Linked DNA regions of Homo sapiens. The protein of the gene in region 2 purifies or fractionates together with the protein of the main gene of each other region. This does not show direct contact. Each region holds a gene or a part of one and is shown on either strand. Other genes may lie near its edges.

Region 1 (3,811 bases), on a different chromosome or scaffold from region 2:
TCTGTAAGCGATGTGAAAACGTCATAGTGAGATGTAAGAAAGCGCTGTTGTAGGCCCGTCATTGTTTACTGCACAGTGTGTGGCAGGAAGCATGCAAAGAACAGCTCGGATCTGGAGATGCTCAGAGAATCTGTGTTTCATGCGTGCGTTGCTTATAGTTTGCCTGGGTAGAAAGGTAAGTGGCGTGAAATAAGACAGAAGGGAAGCGTAGCTGTTAGTCATTCATGAGGGAGAACTTCAGCTCTCTCCCTTAACCAGGCTTTCTGGGAGTGTAATTTTGGAAGGTTCTGGGAGCTCTGCAGTGGAAAGGGGTGGGCCAGGCCCAGGGGCTGCCAAGGGTCTGAGAGGCAGGGAGAGCAGAGGCCGGTGACCAGCAGGGGTCCTTGCCTGGGTGGCAGACAGGGCCACAGCCCCAGGTCCGTCTAGGGAGGGGCAGGGTTACCTGTAAGGACAGGTGTGGCAAAGGGGCCCAGGGAGAATGCCCTGCCACCAGCCCCCACGCTGATACACACACACTTCTGCCACATCTGCCACCCTACTCTGCTTCAGCCTGTTCATAGTTGTCAGGTTTGGACATTGGTTTTGGTTCTGTTTGTTTGTTTTCTGTGAGTAGTTTTCCAAATTTTGATAAAAAAGTGATCTTTTTTTTTGAAATGGAGTATCACTCTGTTGCCCAGGCTGGAGTGCAGTGGAGAGATTCGGCTTGCTGCAGTCTTTGCTTCCCAGGTTCAAGCAATTCTCCTGCCTCTGCCTCCCAAGTAGCTGGGATTATAAGCACCCACCACCGTGCCCGGCTAATTTTTGTATTTTTAGTAGACGGGTTTTGCCATGTTGGCCAGGCTGGTCTTGAACTCCCGACCTCAAGTGATCCACCTGCCTCAGCCTCCCAAAGCGCTGGGATTACAGGCGTGAGCCACTGCATGCCCCGTCAAAATGATCATTTTAAATCGTGGATTTTTCCTTTCCTTCCATCATTGCCATTTCCTGCTTTTTGTTGTATCATTAGAGTAAAGCAGGCCTGCCAGTAGAAAGTGCTATATGGGGGTTGTTGGTATTTTATATTTTTGTTAAATGATGTGAAAAAGGTGTAAAATATTTTTAAAAATGTTTGGGTTCAAAGTTTTTCTCTTCCATGGGTCACTTCTGATAGGGGAAATAACTGTGTAAAGTAAAATATGGTATCCAGAGCTGTGACTGGTGCGGGGGCCCTTGTGAGGGAGCGATGGGGAAGCATGCAGGTTGTTAACAGGCACATGTAGAGATGCATGGCTGTCTGCGTAGAATAGGCCTGGCTGCATCAGCATTGGCTAGTTACCAATCTGGCCATTCTAGGTTCCAATATCTTAATGACCGTCAGTCCCTGGGGACTCACAGTGGGGGTTTAATGAAGAAAACAGAAGGAATGGTTGTGGTACCTCAACACTCTGCCTCCACTGATAGCTACAGACAGCCGAGGCCCTTTTCGGCACCAGGTGAGTCGGGGTGAGTCAGGCTCCTGCAAGTCGTAGGTGTTGCTTCCGTGCTGAGATCACGTTCTTTGTTTTGTTTTGTGCCCGTGGCTTGTTGTCCAGCTGTGGGGAACAGACCCTTACACTTGGATGTGGTCGTTATTATGTTGTGGAAGAGCAGTGCCTTCCTCTTAAAGTGCCTTCCTCCCTTAAAACCGTGGCATGCACACTTAACGGTTTTAAGGAATTACATTTTGATAAACCGTGGCATGCACACTTACTGTTTTAAGGAATTACATTTTGATAAACCGTGGCATGCACACTTACTGTTTTAAGGAATTACATTTTGATAAACCGTGGCATGCACACTTACGGTTTTAAGGAATTACATTTTGATAAACCGTGGCATGCACACTTACTGTTTTAAGGAATTACATTTTGATAAACTGTGGCATGCACACTTCCTGTTTTAAGGAATTACATTTTGATAAACCGTGGCATGCACACTTAACGGTTTTAAGGAATTACATTTTGATAAACCGTGGCATGCACACTTACTGTTTTAAGGAATTACATTTTGATAAACCGTGGCGTGCACACTTAACGGTTTTAAGGAATTACATTTTGATAAACCGTGGCATGCACACTTACTGTTTTAAGGAATTACATTTTGATAAACCGTGGCATGCACACTTACGGTTTTAAGGAATTACATTTTGATAAACTGTGGCATGCGCACTTACTGTTTTATTCTATCGTTTGCTTATTTTTTTTTTCTGAAAGGAAAATAAAGCAGTGATTTCAGTGCAGTGTCTGATTTTCTGTAAGGAACATGAGAAAAGTGAGTCCAAAGAGCATTACATAAGCTAGCGTGGTATTCAGTGCGTATCTGAGCGGACACGGACGGGGAGTCCTCGAGCTTTGGAGAGGAAGCAGGCGGCAGGGCCTCCAGCACACCTGGGGGGCGGCCAACCAGCCCGGCCAGGCCGAGCGCTCCCCGCCTGCACAGTTGCACTCATGTCGGGCCTGAGCTGAGTCGTCCCGACAGGATACCTGCGTGGGCCGTGTAGACACAACCCAGGGAGCTCCAGAGTTAATGACCCTCCTGGTTCAGAAGCTCCGTATGTTTTGTGTGAGAAGCGCTGAGCTGTGACGGAGGGAATGCGGTGGGTCTTCCTGATGGTGCGTGCAGTTCTGAGCCTGGCGGGGTCAGCGGCATGGAACCAGTGGGACGTGGTAAGGCCAGGCCTGTGGGCGGTTGCCCTGTGTGGGCCGGGCCAGCTTGAAGTCCGCTGAGGGCTGGAGCCAGCCCCTGACCCTGGCCAGCCTGCTTGCTGCAGGAGTGATAAGAAAGTCGACTCATGCTTTGTTCTCAAGCACTTGACTCAGCAGGCCCGTGGGAAGCAGCCCACACGAGAGGCCCTGACCCACGTCCAGCTGCCTCCACGGAAGCCGCGGCTTCGTGGCTTTCTGTCGTTTGTGTGGGCTCTGCATTCAGCCAGCAGAGGCACTTCTTGCAGAGCAGGGCTGAGGAGAATTCCTTTCTCTGGAAGCTGTGGTCCTGTGTTATGTAGAATAGGTCACTTTTCAGCTGCAGCTGGAGTCTAAACGAGCGTCATAGGTGCCCAGCGCTGCACGGCGGCGCAGCGCTGCATTCGTGGTCCCGAATCCGGGGTCTGCGGAGGAAGAACGCGCGGCGAGGCCCGGGGAGGCTGCTGGGACGGCGGCAGGCACCCTGCTCCTGGAATGGCGTTTAGACATGCAGGTTTCTCCATGATTTAATAGGAAGGAATGAAAGGTGCAGCGTTTTGCCAGCTGATGAAAATATCTGGGGAGCGAGTCATAGGTAGCGGTAGCAAGAAGGAGAGGGTTAGGTTCTCCAGTGTGCAGGCTCCGAAGTGCTCTCTGCCAGCCGTCAGAGGGCTGCAGTTTGGAGGCAGCTCCCGCTTGCTCTAAAGAGCCACTTCCCCGCTCCGTTCTGTCTGCAGACGGCCCCAGAGGGCAAGGACTCCTGGTGACAAGAGGAGTATCAGACGAAGGCAGGGGAGGGAGGCTGTGTGCGCGCACCTGTAATCCTGGGAGATTTCCACTGCAATCCGCAGGCATGCGTGGCAGGCGGCTCATTTCCCGTGGGGCTCAGGCGGCTCATTTCCCGTGGGGCCCAGGCGGCTGTCCTTGGTGGGCGCTTGACTCCTGGGCGTGGCTTCTGTCCAGCATCCAGGCTGCCAGGAGCCTCCGGGGGCCGTGCAAACACCTGCGAGCACCTTCTTGGTCCCTTGAGGCCTTTCTCTGTTGGCTTAGGTTTAGTGCCCTTTTGTGCTTATGTGTTTTTTGAATCAAGTTTTTATACTTGATTTAACTTC
Region 2 (3,811 bases):
TCTGTCTTCTCCCCCATTAAATGATTATATGGTTTATGTTTTATGTGTTTTTAAAAATTTAGTTACTTATGCATTTAAAGTATATTTAGTGATATGTGAAAATGCAAATTACATAATTTTTAGGTGAAATAATCTAAATAAAGGCCCATTATACCAATTTTTAAAAAGAAAATTCATTATAATTTATAGACCAAAAAAAAAGAGAGAATAAAGCAAAATTCCTCCAAAAGCTGACAATGTTTATATCTGGTTAATGAGATAGGAGAAAGAGGTGAATTCTAGTTTTTGTCCTTTTTTTGTATTCTCTAAAATTTAGACATTTATTTAACCTTTTCTAATTAATGAGCTTTATTTCTTCAGAATAGTTTTAGATTTAAAGAAAAACTAAACAGATAGTACAGAGAGGTCCCATATGCTCACTCCATTTATCACCCTAGTTTCCCCAATTATTAGCATCTTACATTAGTATGGCACATTTATCACAACTAATGAACCAGTATTGATACATTATTATTAACTTATTTTAATAATTAATATTAATAATTGTTATTAACATATTTTTTCAGATTTCCTTTTTTTCTCAGATTTCAGTTTTTACCTAATATCCTTTTTCTTCTCTTTCTTTCTTTTTCTTTCCTTTTCTTTCTTTCTTTTTTTTTTTTTTTGAGATGGAGTCTCCCTCTGTCACCCAAGCTGGAGTGCAGTGGCACGATCTTGGCTTACTGCAACCTCCACCTCCTGGGTTAAAGCAGTCCTCCCACCTCAGCCTCCAAAGTAGCTGGGACTACAGGCGTGTGCCGCCACACCTGGCTAATTTTATTTTTTTAGTAGAGACAGCATTTCACCATGTTGGCCAGGCTAGTCTTGAACTCTTGACCTCAAATGATCCACCTGCCTTGGCCTCCCAAAGTTCTGGGATTACAGGTGTGAGCCACCAAGCCCAGCCCCTAATATCCTTTTTCTGTTCCAGATCCCATCCAGGATACCACATTATGTGGAATTGTTAGGTCTCCTTAGGGCCCTCTTCACTATGATGGTTTCTCAGACTTTGGTTCCGATGACCTTGCCGGTTAGGTCAGGTATTTTGTGGGATGGCCTCCAGATGGAATTTGTCCTTTGTTTTTCTCATGATTAGAGTGAGGTTATGGGTTTTGGGGAAGACACCCAAAGGAAGATTTCATTATATCATATCAAGGGTACACACTATCAACATGATAGATTAATATAATAGTAATATAATAATATAACATAATATAATATGATACATTACATGATTAGCTTTAATAGTTTATATGTTTTATTGATTTTGTTTTGTTTTTGTGGTAGTTTTTCCCAAAGAACCATCTCTTTAGTTTTTGCTTAGTTCTATTATTTCCCTATTTTATTATGCTCCATTCATTTTTTAAAATTTAATAGCATAAATATATCAGCCATGATTTCCTCTGAGAACTGCTGTAGAGGCACCCCGCAGGTTCTAGTATGTGGAATGCTTTTTGTTATTGTTGTATTCCAGATATTCTGCAATTTCTATATGGATTTCTTTTTTGATCTGAGTTGGGGTCAAGTTGTTTAAAGAATTTTTTAAAATGCCTAAGTGATAGGATTTTGTGATCTATAATTTTGTGATTAATTTCTAGTTTTCCTTCTGTGTTATCAGATACTGTATTATTTTTGCTTTTTTTGAAGTTTTGTTTGTGACCTAATATACAGGAAAATTTTTTTGATCATTCCATGAACACTTGAAAAGAACATGCATTCTTTGTTTTCAAGGTATAGAATTTGATGAACACATTAGTTAGATCTGTCTTATTAATTATGTAATTTGGTTTTTCTATGTCTTTACTTAATTTTGGTCCACTGGTCCATCATGAGCTAGAAGAGGGAAATTAAAATTACATGCCTCTGATGTGTGTCTGTCTAAGGCCCCTCCTTATATTTCCTCTAGCTTTTGCTCTGAATTTTGGTGCTATTTGGTGAGTTCGGTCTTCAATTGTGGATCGCATTCTTTATTATTATTAAGTATTCTTGTCTCACTTAAAACCTTTTGTCCTGAAATCAACTTTACTTGCCTAATATTAAGATTACAGTGCCTGCTTAGTTTGAGTTCACACTTCCCTGTTATGTGTTTGCCCTTCCTTTATTTTCAAAATTGTTAAATCACTTTGCTTTGGGGAATGTCTCTTATATGTAGCATATGGTTGGGGGTTTTGTGTTTTTCCCCAGTCTTATAATCTTTTTTTAGCAGTTTACTATGGCCATTTAATGACATGGTCAATATTTCGGTCTTAGTTTTACTATCATATTTCATGCTTTTATGCCTTTTTGCCTCTCTTGCTTTCTAACAAAATCTTTCAGTATATGATCTGTTTTATTTTGTATTATGTTCAAGGTTTGTATCTGCAAGATGTGTATTTTTATTTTTAGTTCTGGAGGTTACCTTTATAACTAGCCAAAATGGATTTAATCTTTTGTTGAGACCATGCTAGGTGTCTCCCTTCTGAAATAATCAATCACAAAATTAGTTTACAAATTTGGTTCCCATTTTTATCTGCTTTGTGGCAGCTTTTTTCAGGTGAGTTTGCTTGGTTTGCCATGTTTTGTCCTGTTCGTTTATTCCTTTCTTTCTTCTATAGCATCTTTGACTATATCCTGTGCTGGTTCCTCTTTGAAAGAGGTAAACCTTCTTGGATCAGCATTTTGCAGGAGACACATGTGGAGGAGGTACCAAGAAGAGGGCAGGATTGCTCCCTGGTTCCCAGGAACTTTGTTCACAGGGTTGTTGTAGTGACTTCCTTTAGTCTTTGCTTCTACTCTGTCAGCAGAGTTCTGCAGCTGTGGGCTTCTCCCAATTCAGAGCCCTCCTCTCACTCTGCCTTGCCAACACACTGCTTCCTGTGAAGATGGCGGGTCTGTGGTTTCCTCTGTTGGCCCTGCCCTCCTCTTCCCCCAGGGTGTAGGAGGCAGCTCCCACTACCAGACCACATGCCCTGTTCCCATTTTTTCTGATAAGGGATCATTAGTTTTTTCCTTCAGGGAATGCCAGCTCCTGGCTGGCTCTGCCAGCTTTGTCTGAGATCTGCCACCACAGGTGTCTTCTCTAGGTGTTTTCTCACAGTATTTTTGATCTTCACTGCTTTTGGTAGCCCTTACCTGTTTTGGGCAGCCTTTCCTTATAAGCTGTGTTTCAGGTTATAAATGTGTTCTAGTTTGCTGAAGAAGGAGTTTGCATTTCTTTTTTTCTCCTGGATTTTGGGTGATTTCGGATATGAAAAGGAGTAACTTTATTCTGCTATCTTAAAACTGCCTAGTGTTGCAAATTGTTATGTGTTCTGGTATTCCCTCAGATTGAACATTAGCCAGAGCTCTCGGAATAGGGTCAACATCTGCTGAAGCTGGGATCTGACAATAGAGAGGGAAGAGTATGAGAGTTAAGAATAAAATGGAATGGTGAAAAACCCACAGGATACTTGTCTGTGCTGTGTGGCAGCAGAGTTCTTTTCGTCCCTACCTGGACTTTGGCTAGGGGTGTACCACTGTCTGGGTGGGAGGTTGAGGCTGGGGAGGGCAGGGCATGAAAAACACCCATCCATCTCCTCATCTGGCTCAGGAGAAGTTGTTCTAGGCCCAGCAGCTCTCAGGCCAGGGAGGGGAGGGCACACGCCTCTGCTCTGGACAGGGCTTGGCTCTCCATCTCTCTCCATACCCAGGGCCCGTCCAAGTAGTCCGAGCTCCTTGGGTTCTGTCTGGTTTCCTAGTGATGGTGGCCAATTCCTTCTCCATGAAAACCAGGATCCTGTCTCAGGGAAGGCAG
Region 3 (3,811 bases), on a different chromosome or scaffold from region 2:
CATTCCAAAAGAGAAAACCCTCAAAGCAATTGGAATGAATCACACAGTTTGCCAAAAGTGACTTTGGAAAACTTTTCTGTCATTACATATTCAAAAGAAGTATACACTTTTAACCCCAAGTAAATAGCTGACCTAAAATGAAATAAAGGCAGATGAAACACATTCCCCTTAATGTAATTAGTAATAGTAATTGATATGTTTCATCTCCTCAATATTGCTGTCAGGGGACAAGGGATCCATTTACAAAGTTACATTCCGTTTTGACATCTGACATAAATGGGATCCTTTTTGTTCTGCTTTTTGTTTGTGCCATAAGTAGACAATTTCCTATTTTTATTTTTAAAATATATGACCTTTAATTTTTACAGAACTGCCAAAATATATTTTCTTTGATTAAACCTGATGTTATAAAAGAAAAAAAGAGAATTCAGGGTTTCGCGGGAATTTCCTTCTTTTGATAAATGGATTTATCTAAGGTAAAACTAGACTGTTGTATTCTTTCAATTCCATACAGCAGGGTCTAATTTAAAAATTGAGATTTCATTTTACATTCATTTTATTTATAGTTTTCCTGAATTGCCTTATTGCAGTTATTTATTTGTGAAAAAATTAAAGTGATGTTTCTTAAGAGTGTTCTTATCTTCATGAAAATTAGACATTTTAAAGTGTTGAACCTAAGTCCTGTTGTTTTCATTATAATAGGTTAAACAGCTTTGTAGAAATGAAAGTTTGTAAATAATACTCTCCCTTAACTGCTTACTTTTTGTTTTGTTTACATAGACTTGAGAGCCATTCAAATCAAGCTTCTATGGCAGACTCTAGGAAATGTGTGTGGTAGAGTTGCTGGAATTATTTCCGAAATTCACACTTTAGAAAAACTCACTGATGATGTAGCCCAAATTTTCATAGTTCATACCTTTGCATTTCAAACAAAAGCCTTTGCTCTCAGCTAAATAATGTGTTTAGCTGAGCAAAATGTGGATCATTGACAGCATGATTGAGATTAAGTATCCACCTTTCTGTTTCATTCTTCCTTGGTAAACCTGGTCTTGGTAGTTGTTAAACTTTTGTGAACTAGAAGTACAACTGTGTTTTTCATTCATAACATAAAGGCATACGCATTCTATTTTTCTGTTTATTTTTAAGTCTCTGGTATTTTACTATGTGCTAAGCATTTTTCAATTTTCTTTTAAAATAATGTAATCCCCCCAAAGAGTGATAGTATGAAAAGTACAGTTACTATTTTGCTTATTATTCTTGAATTCTATTGAGCTTATCCTTGATAGGCTGTTATTTAGATAATGCACTTACAAGTAAAAATTTTATTGTATTTAGTAAATGGAAAGTAAGGTAATTTATTTTTGGCAAGAGCTTAGTTTGAATAAACATCCATTTTAAAATCCACTTGCAGCTGATCCTGAAATACAAAAAATTTACATTAACTTCAGTGACAGTTTCAGTTTGTCTTCATAATGTTCTCTTTAGTGATCGAATTATGTTCAATATATTCATTGTATACCTAGTGAAAAAATTTGGGAGAATTTTTTAATTGCTTCAATTTTGGAAGCAAATGGTTGACTTGCTGTCATCTATTAAGCAATAAGAAAACTAAATGTCAATTCATTTGTGTGTGTGTGTGTGTGTATACATACATATGTATATATATATATATATATAGAGAGAGAGAGAGAGAGAGAGAGAGCATATATATATATTCTTTAGTGGAAATGCATCTACATAGTGATGCCAACCATAGCTTCCAGTGCTCATTCTGTAAGCATAATTTTTACAATGTTTTTCTCCTGTCTATAACCAAGGATGTTTTCATAAGGCACAATGAATCTGCATATGTTGTAATTTCCGTTACATTTGGCCTGATACCATAGGCAAAACACTAATAGCTGATGGAAGTTAGGCTGTGTCTTTAGTCATCTAGTAAAGCAACACTATCTGGATCTCTGGATGTCTATGAAATAAGGAAAAGGTCATCCATTGATTTGATCCGCAATGAATTTGCAAATTTATATGGAAGTCCACATGATTATTTGAATCTTATCCAAAACTTATCCTAAACCAATTAATGACTTAGATGTAAGACCACAAAGTCAGTTTAAATATTTTAATGAGCCATCTAGTACAATAAATATGGCAAAATCATTTTTTCTTATCCTTCTATCTTTGAGTAATTACATATCTCGTATGTGAAAAAGTGTGAACATGGTTTATATCACAAACTCTGTACACACAGAGACATATACACACATATTAGTGTATACCATTTATAGCTGTATTAGTCTTTTATTTAGTCATGATGTTTATAGATTAATATGTGAAAAATATCTAAGCTTAAACATACACAATGTTGAAATAAAATATACTATAATCAACAGCTTAATGACTGTACATGAAATCACTAGCATCATCACATTTTAGAATTACAAGGTGTCAAACAGTCCCCTCATTTTAATAGAAGAGGAGACTGAGGCCCAGCATGAAACAGTGACTTGATTGGGATTACAAAATTGTCAGGGATATAATGTGGACTAGAGTCCAAGTTATGGAATGTAGTGTCCAGTATTCTTATTTATCTGATCATACTACCTTTGGGGGAAAAAAACTGAATTTCTGTAACTTTCTGTGTGTGTATTTCAATTGCAGTAGAAATCTGTTGAAATTTACTTACTTATTTATGACTATATATTTGGCTATGAAGATTGACATCTTTACAATAGACTATAATTCTGCTTTAGGCTCCAGTTCTTCTGTGTAAAATTATCTGGGAAAATATAATTCAAAATTTACAGAATTTTAAAGAAGTTAATAATTCTTTTCCCTCATGTAGGATTGTAATTGATAACATAGAGTAAAGCATCTTAACATGGTTAAGAACATATATTCTGTTGACAGAATTTTTAATATTAGCAGAACAATGATAACAGACATAAGTTCCTTCCTAGCAATTAGTATATTTCAATAAAAATTCATTTAAATAGAAAAGAATTAAAACATTCTACACATTATGTATGAAACTTTTTATGCATTCTAATTGTGATAATCTTTTACCTTTTTCATCAATATTGATAATTACTTTTGACTTCTGGGCTTGTGTGCATTTTATCAACTTTGCACATACATTTTATTTTAGTAGCATCCTTAACACACAGTCATGCACGAATGTTTTCTCTTAATTTGTTTTCTAGCAAGTTTTTAGAAGAATATGACATTTTGTTAACTTTCAATTGGATTGCTTCCTTGTTAGGCAGTTAACCAATCTAGTGTACTAGATTCTAAATTTGCACAGTGATAAAATATAAATTATTGAATCTATTAATTTTAAAAATAAAATCTGAACTATTTTAAAAACTAAATATAGTGTGACAAAGCCATTACTTCAACACAGCAATCTACTCTATTAAACATTTTAACATCTTTTCTTTCCTGGGAGGATGTGGTGGTGGAGATTATGTAGGAGATTTAGTATAATTATATACAGTATTTTAAATATATATATAACTTTAAATATATAACATGACTTTGTTTAGAATAGTCATGTATAAAGAGTGTATAATCGATTTCTAGACTATGGCAAGGTTTCCCATTCATTTATTTACTATGACTCTATAGAAATAGTAAGAGCTGTTCCCATATATCTAGAGTAAGCTTTGCTTTTCTTAGTTTTTTTAAAAAAACCCATAGAATCTTTTCTAAAGCAGTGACTCTTTTGCGGTACATTACACTGTGCTTTATTTAGCATTAGTGTTGTGGGAAAAATCACATTCTAAGAAGAATTGAGCTGAAACCACTAAAACTA
Region 4 (3,811 bases), on a different chromosome or scaffold from region 2:
GTAGAAGAGAATGTATATCAGAGGAAAGAATGTAGAGAAGAAAGCAACATTGTCCACTGGGAATTGATAAGTTCTGCGTAGAATTTAGAGTTATAAGGACTATCTCATTGGCTCCTAATGAATGCTAAATAACAAATGGAAATTGCTGTGAGTGTCATGAAGCAATCTTAGGAATATTTTATTATGTTTCTGCAGGAAATAATTGGCAGAGGCTTAAGTTGAATTGAGGCCAAGAAATTTGGTGGTGTTGATGGGAGGTTACAGGGATAGAGCTTATCAACTTAATCAACTTATCTCATGCTTTGTGATAGAAGTTCATTCAGCTTTTTTTCTTTTTGTTTTTCTTTTTTTTTTTTTTTGAGATGGAGTCTCACTCTGCCGCCCAGGCTTGAGTGCAGTGGCACGATCTCAGTTCACTGCAACCTCCACTTCCCGGATTGAAGCAATTCTCCTGCCTCAGCCCTCCTTGCGTAGCTGGGATTACAGGCGTGTGCCACCATGCCCGGCTAATTTTTTGTATTTTCACTCAGCTTTTAACTTACTTGGTTAAATCTTGTGGTGTTCTGTCAATGTTAGATTGGGTTCTCTGTTGACATTTCCTTTAAAAACTGGACGGGTTCAGAATGTGACTGAATTCTGTCTTTTAGTAAGAAAGTTCTTGGAGATGATTAAAGATTTGAACTTCTAGAACTTAAGCTGGAACAGAGTTATGTATATCACTTGAAAAAGATTAGTTTTGTATATCGTTAGAAAACAATTGATTATTTTTATTAATAAAGTAGTAATTTAATTTTTTTTTTTTCCTGAAGAGATGAGGTCTCCCTATGTTGCTCAGGCTGGACTCAAAACTCCTGGGCTCAAGTAGCCCTCCCCAATAGCTGGAACTACAGGTGCATGCACCTGGCTTACATTTTTTTAAATTAATTTTTTTTTTGAGATGGAGTCTTGCTCTGTCACCAGGCTGCAGGCAGTGGCGCAATCTTGGCTCACTGCAGCCTCTGCCTCCTGGGTTCAAGTGGACTACAGGTGCGCACCACCGCACCCAGCTAATTTTTTGTATTTTAGTAGAAATGGGGTTTCACCGTGTTGGCCAGGATGGTCTCTATCTCCTGACCTTGTGATCTGCCCACCTCGGCCTCCCAAAGTGCTGGGATTACAGGCATGAGCCACCTCGCTCGGCCATACATTTTTATACTGTATAATTTTCACAATATTTTCAATATGTGTTAGGAAACTTATAAAACTTTTGTTTTGATCATGTAGCTTTATGGTGCTTATTAATATCAAATCCAAACATTTTGGTCCTCAAGCATATTGGTGAATGTTGTCTGTTTAAGTTGACAATTTTTAGACCGGGCGCGGTGGCTCACACCTGTAATCCCAGCACTTTGGGAGGCGAAGGTGGGTGGATCATGAGGTCAGGAGATTGAGACCATCCTGGCTAACACGGTGAAACCCCTTCTCTACTAAAAAATACAAAAAAAATTAGCGGGGAATGGTGGTGGGCGCCTGTAGTCCCAGTTACTTGGGAGACTGAGGCAGGAGAATGGCGTGAACCCGGTAGGCGGAGCTTGCAGTTAGCCGAGTTAGCACCACTGCACTCCAGCCTGGGCGACAGAGGGAGACTCTGTCTCAAAAAAAAAAAGTTGGCAATTTCTCTCACACTTCCAATTTATCTCACTCTTAAAGGAATAAGAGAAAATGTTTTGTTGTTAGCACAGAGAGGTGTCTTTTTCTAAGATATGCCTCAGCCTTGGTAGAGTTATTTTGGAGTGGAATCCGCATTTTTTTGCCCAGTGGTTTGGTTTACCCCAAAAAAACTTAGGTTCCTTTAATCACAGTCATTCTTGTTTCATTCTCCAATTGTTCCTCATAAACTCAGAGAGAGCTTTCAGTGTCTTAATTTCTGTTTGTATAGAAATGCTGTGGTACAGCCTGTCCTGTGGTTTGGGGTCATTTATATTTTATCTTTTCAGGCTCCCCCAAGTTAATGTGATCAATTTTTTTTTGCACAGCTAAAATTAGTTACTGATGGATAAAAATTTTATGATTAGTTATTGTCAGCATGTATTTATGTGTCCAGTAGTATGTGGCAGCCTGCCAATGTAATGTAAGGAGAAAATAGATTAAGTAATCAGGAGATCTGGGTTTAAGCCCTAGGTTTACTACCTGAGAAGTCTTGTACAAATTATTTAAGGAGGCTGTAGGGAAGGTTAATGTCCTTTATTGAGCATTTACTGTGTCATGTTCTTTACATGTGTTATTTCATTTATTACTTATAAGAGTCCTTTAGAGTAGATGTTAATTTCCCCATAGAGATACTATTTTTCCATTTTTTTGTTGAAGCCCAGTGACAGTAAATAATTTAACCAAGATCACACAGTAGGTATAGTAGAGCTGTGATTGAAATCAAAGGCTTTGAATGCTTTTCTGAGTCTGTATTTAAAGAATGGAAAAGTAAAACATCCATCATAATACTTTTTTTTTTTTTTTTTTGAGATGGAGTTTCGCTCTTGTTGCCCAATCTGGTGTGCAATGGCGCGATCTCGGCTCACTGCATCCTCCGCCTCCTGGGTTCAAGCGATTCTCCTGCCTCAGCCTCCCTGGTAGCTGGGACTACAGGCATGTGGCTGGCTAATTTTTGTACTTTTTTTTTTTAGTAGAGACGGGTTTTCACCATGTTGGTCAGGCTGGTCTCGAACTCCTGACTTCAGGTGATCCACCTGCCTTGGCCTCCCAAAGTGCTGGGAATACAGGTATGAGCCACCGTGCCCGGCCCATCATAATACTTAAGTTGATTACATTGAGAAAAAGTATGTGAAAATGCTTTAAAAGGATAAAGTACTCTTCAATTGTTAACTTCCATGCTATTTTACAACAACAATGAACAGATGTTATTTAAGTTCTTGGGCAACTTGCTACTTTCTGTTTATTTTTTTTGAGATGGAGTCTTGCTCTGTCATCCAGGCTGGAGTGCAGCTGCGCTATCTTGGCTCATTGCAACCTGCGCCTCCCAGGTTCAAGTGATTCCCCCTCCTCAGCTTCCTGAGTAGCTGGGATTACAGACACGTGCCACCAGGCCCAGCTAATTTTGTATTTTTAGTAGAGACCAGGTTTCACCATGTTGGCCAGGCTGGTCTTGAACCCCTGACCTCAAGTCATCTGCCCAACTTGGCCTGTCAAAGTTCTGTGATTACATGCATGAGCCACAGCACCCATCCTCCTTCTATTTCTTTTCTGACTTATTTTTTGTCTCTCCCTCTGCTCTTAGGGTTAATAATCTTCACTTCTCTACCTAAATTTTTTTCTTCATTGTGTGTTGTTTTGGTACCGTGTTTTTTTCTGAGGTCAGAAATATTCCCATCAGACGTTGTGGAGCTATTTCTTGATTGTGACTGTGTGTTTCAACCCTTACCTATGAAGATGTTTGTTCATCTAGCAAATATTTATTGAAGACTCATTAGATGTTGGGATACAAAGGTAGACATAGGTGTTCTTATGGTCTCCTTATGGAGTTTATTCCAGTGGGGAGTATAGGTATTTGATAAATATTGAAATTTAGACTGAAACAAGTATTCTGAAGGAAATAAACAAGGGCTGACAGAGGGAAGAAGGAGTGAGGCGAGCCCTGGGTATTTACAGGGATTAGAGTCTTCAGTCATAGCATCCTTAATCCCCTTGAAAAGTTGGAATCACGAATCATAATTGCGTAAATTTAAGTTTCCTTGCTGCCATCTAAGTCTTCAGTCTTCATTTAAGATTGATTGCTACATGTAATATGTGTCTGATATTTAATGTATGATAATACTGG

What was found. The genes of interacting proteins can lie anywhere in the genome.
Region 1: the proteins of SPSB4 (region 2) and ARHGEF10 purify together in Homo sapiens (co-immunoprecipitation; 2 studies listed by BioGRID and IntAct, with this or other methods). This does not show direct contact.
Region 3: the proteins of SPSB4 (region 2) and PCDH7 purify together in Homo sapiens (co-immunoprecipitation; 2 studies listed by BioGRID and IntAct, with this or other methods). This does not show direct contact.
Region 4: the proteins of SPSB4 (region 2) and AMBRA1 purify together in Homo sapiens (co-immunoprecipitation; 2 studies listed by BioGRID and IntAct, with this or other methods). This does not show direct contact.

What each region holds. Positions count from the first base shown.
Region 1 is NC_000008.11:1,826,678-1,830,488, forward strand, and holds part of ARHGEF10 (rho guanine nucleotide exchange factor 10), read left to right. Parts: intron 1-3,811. UniProt on the Homo sapiens protein: May play a role in developmental myelination of peripheral nerves.
Region 2 is NC_000003.12:141,061,089-141,064,899, forward strand, and holds part of SPSB4 (SPRY domain-containing SOCS box protein 4), read left to right. Parts: intron 1-3,811. UniProt on the Homo sapiens protein: Substrate recognition component of a SCF-like ECS (Elongin BC-CUL2/5-SOCS-box protein) E3 ubiquitin-protein ligase complex which mediates the ubiquitination and subsequent proteasomal degradation of target proteins.
Region 3 is NC_000004.12:30,726,621-30,730,431, forward strand, and holds part of PCDH7 (protocadherin-7 isoform d precursor), read left to right. Parts: intron 1-3,811.
Region 4 is NC_000011.10:46,587,461-46,591,271, reverse strand, and holds part of AMBRA1 (activating molecule in BECN1-regulated autophagy protein 1), read left to right. Parts: exon of another isoform or gene 1-147; intron 148-3,811. UniProt on the Homo sapiens protein: Substrate-recognition component of a DCX (DDB1-CUL4-X-box) E3 ubiquitin-protein ligase complex involved in cell cycle control and autophagy.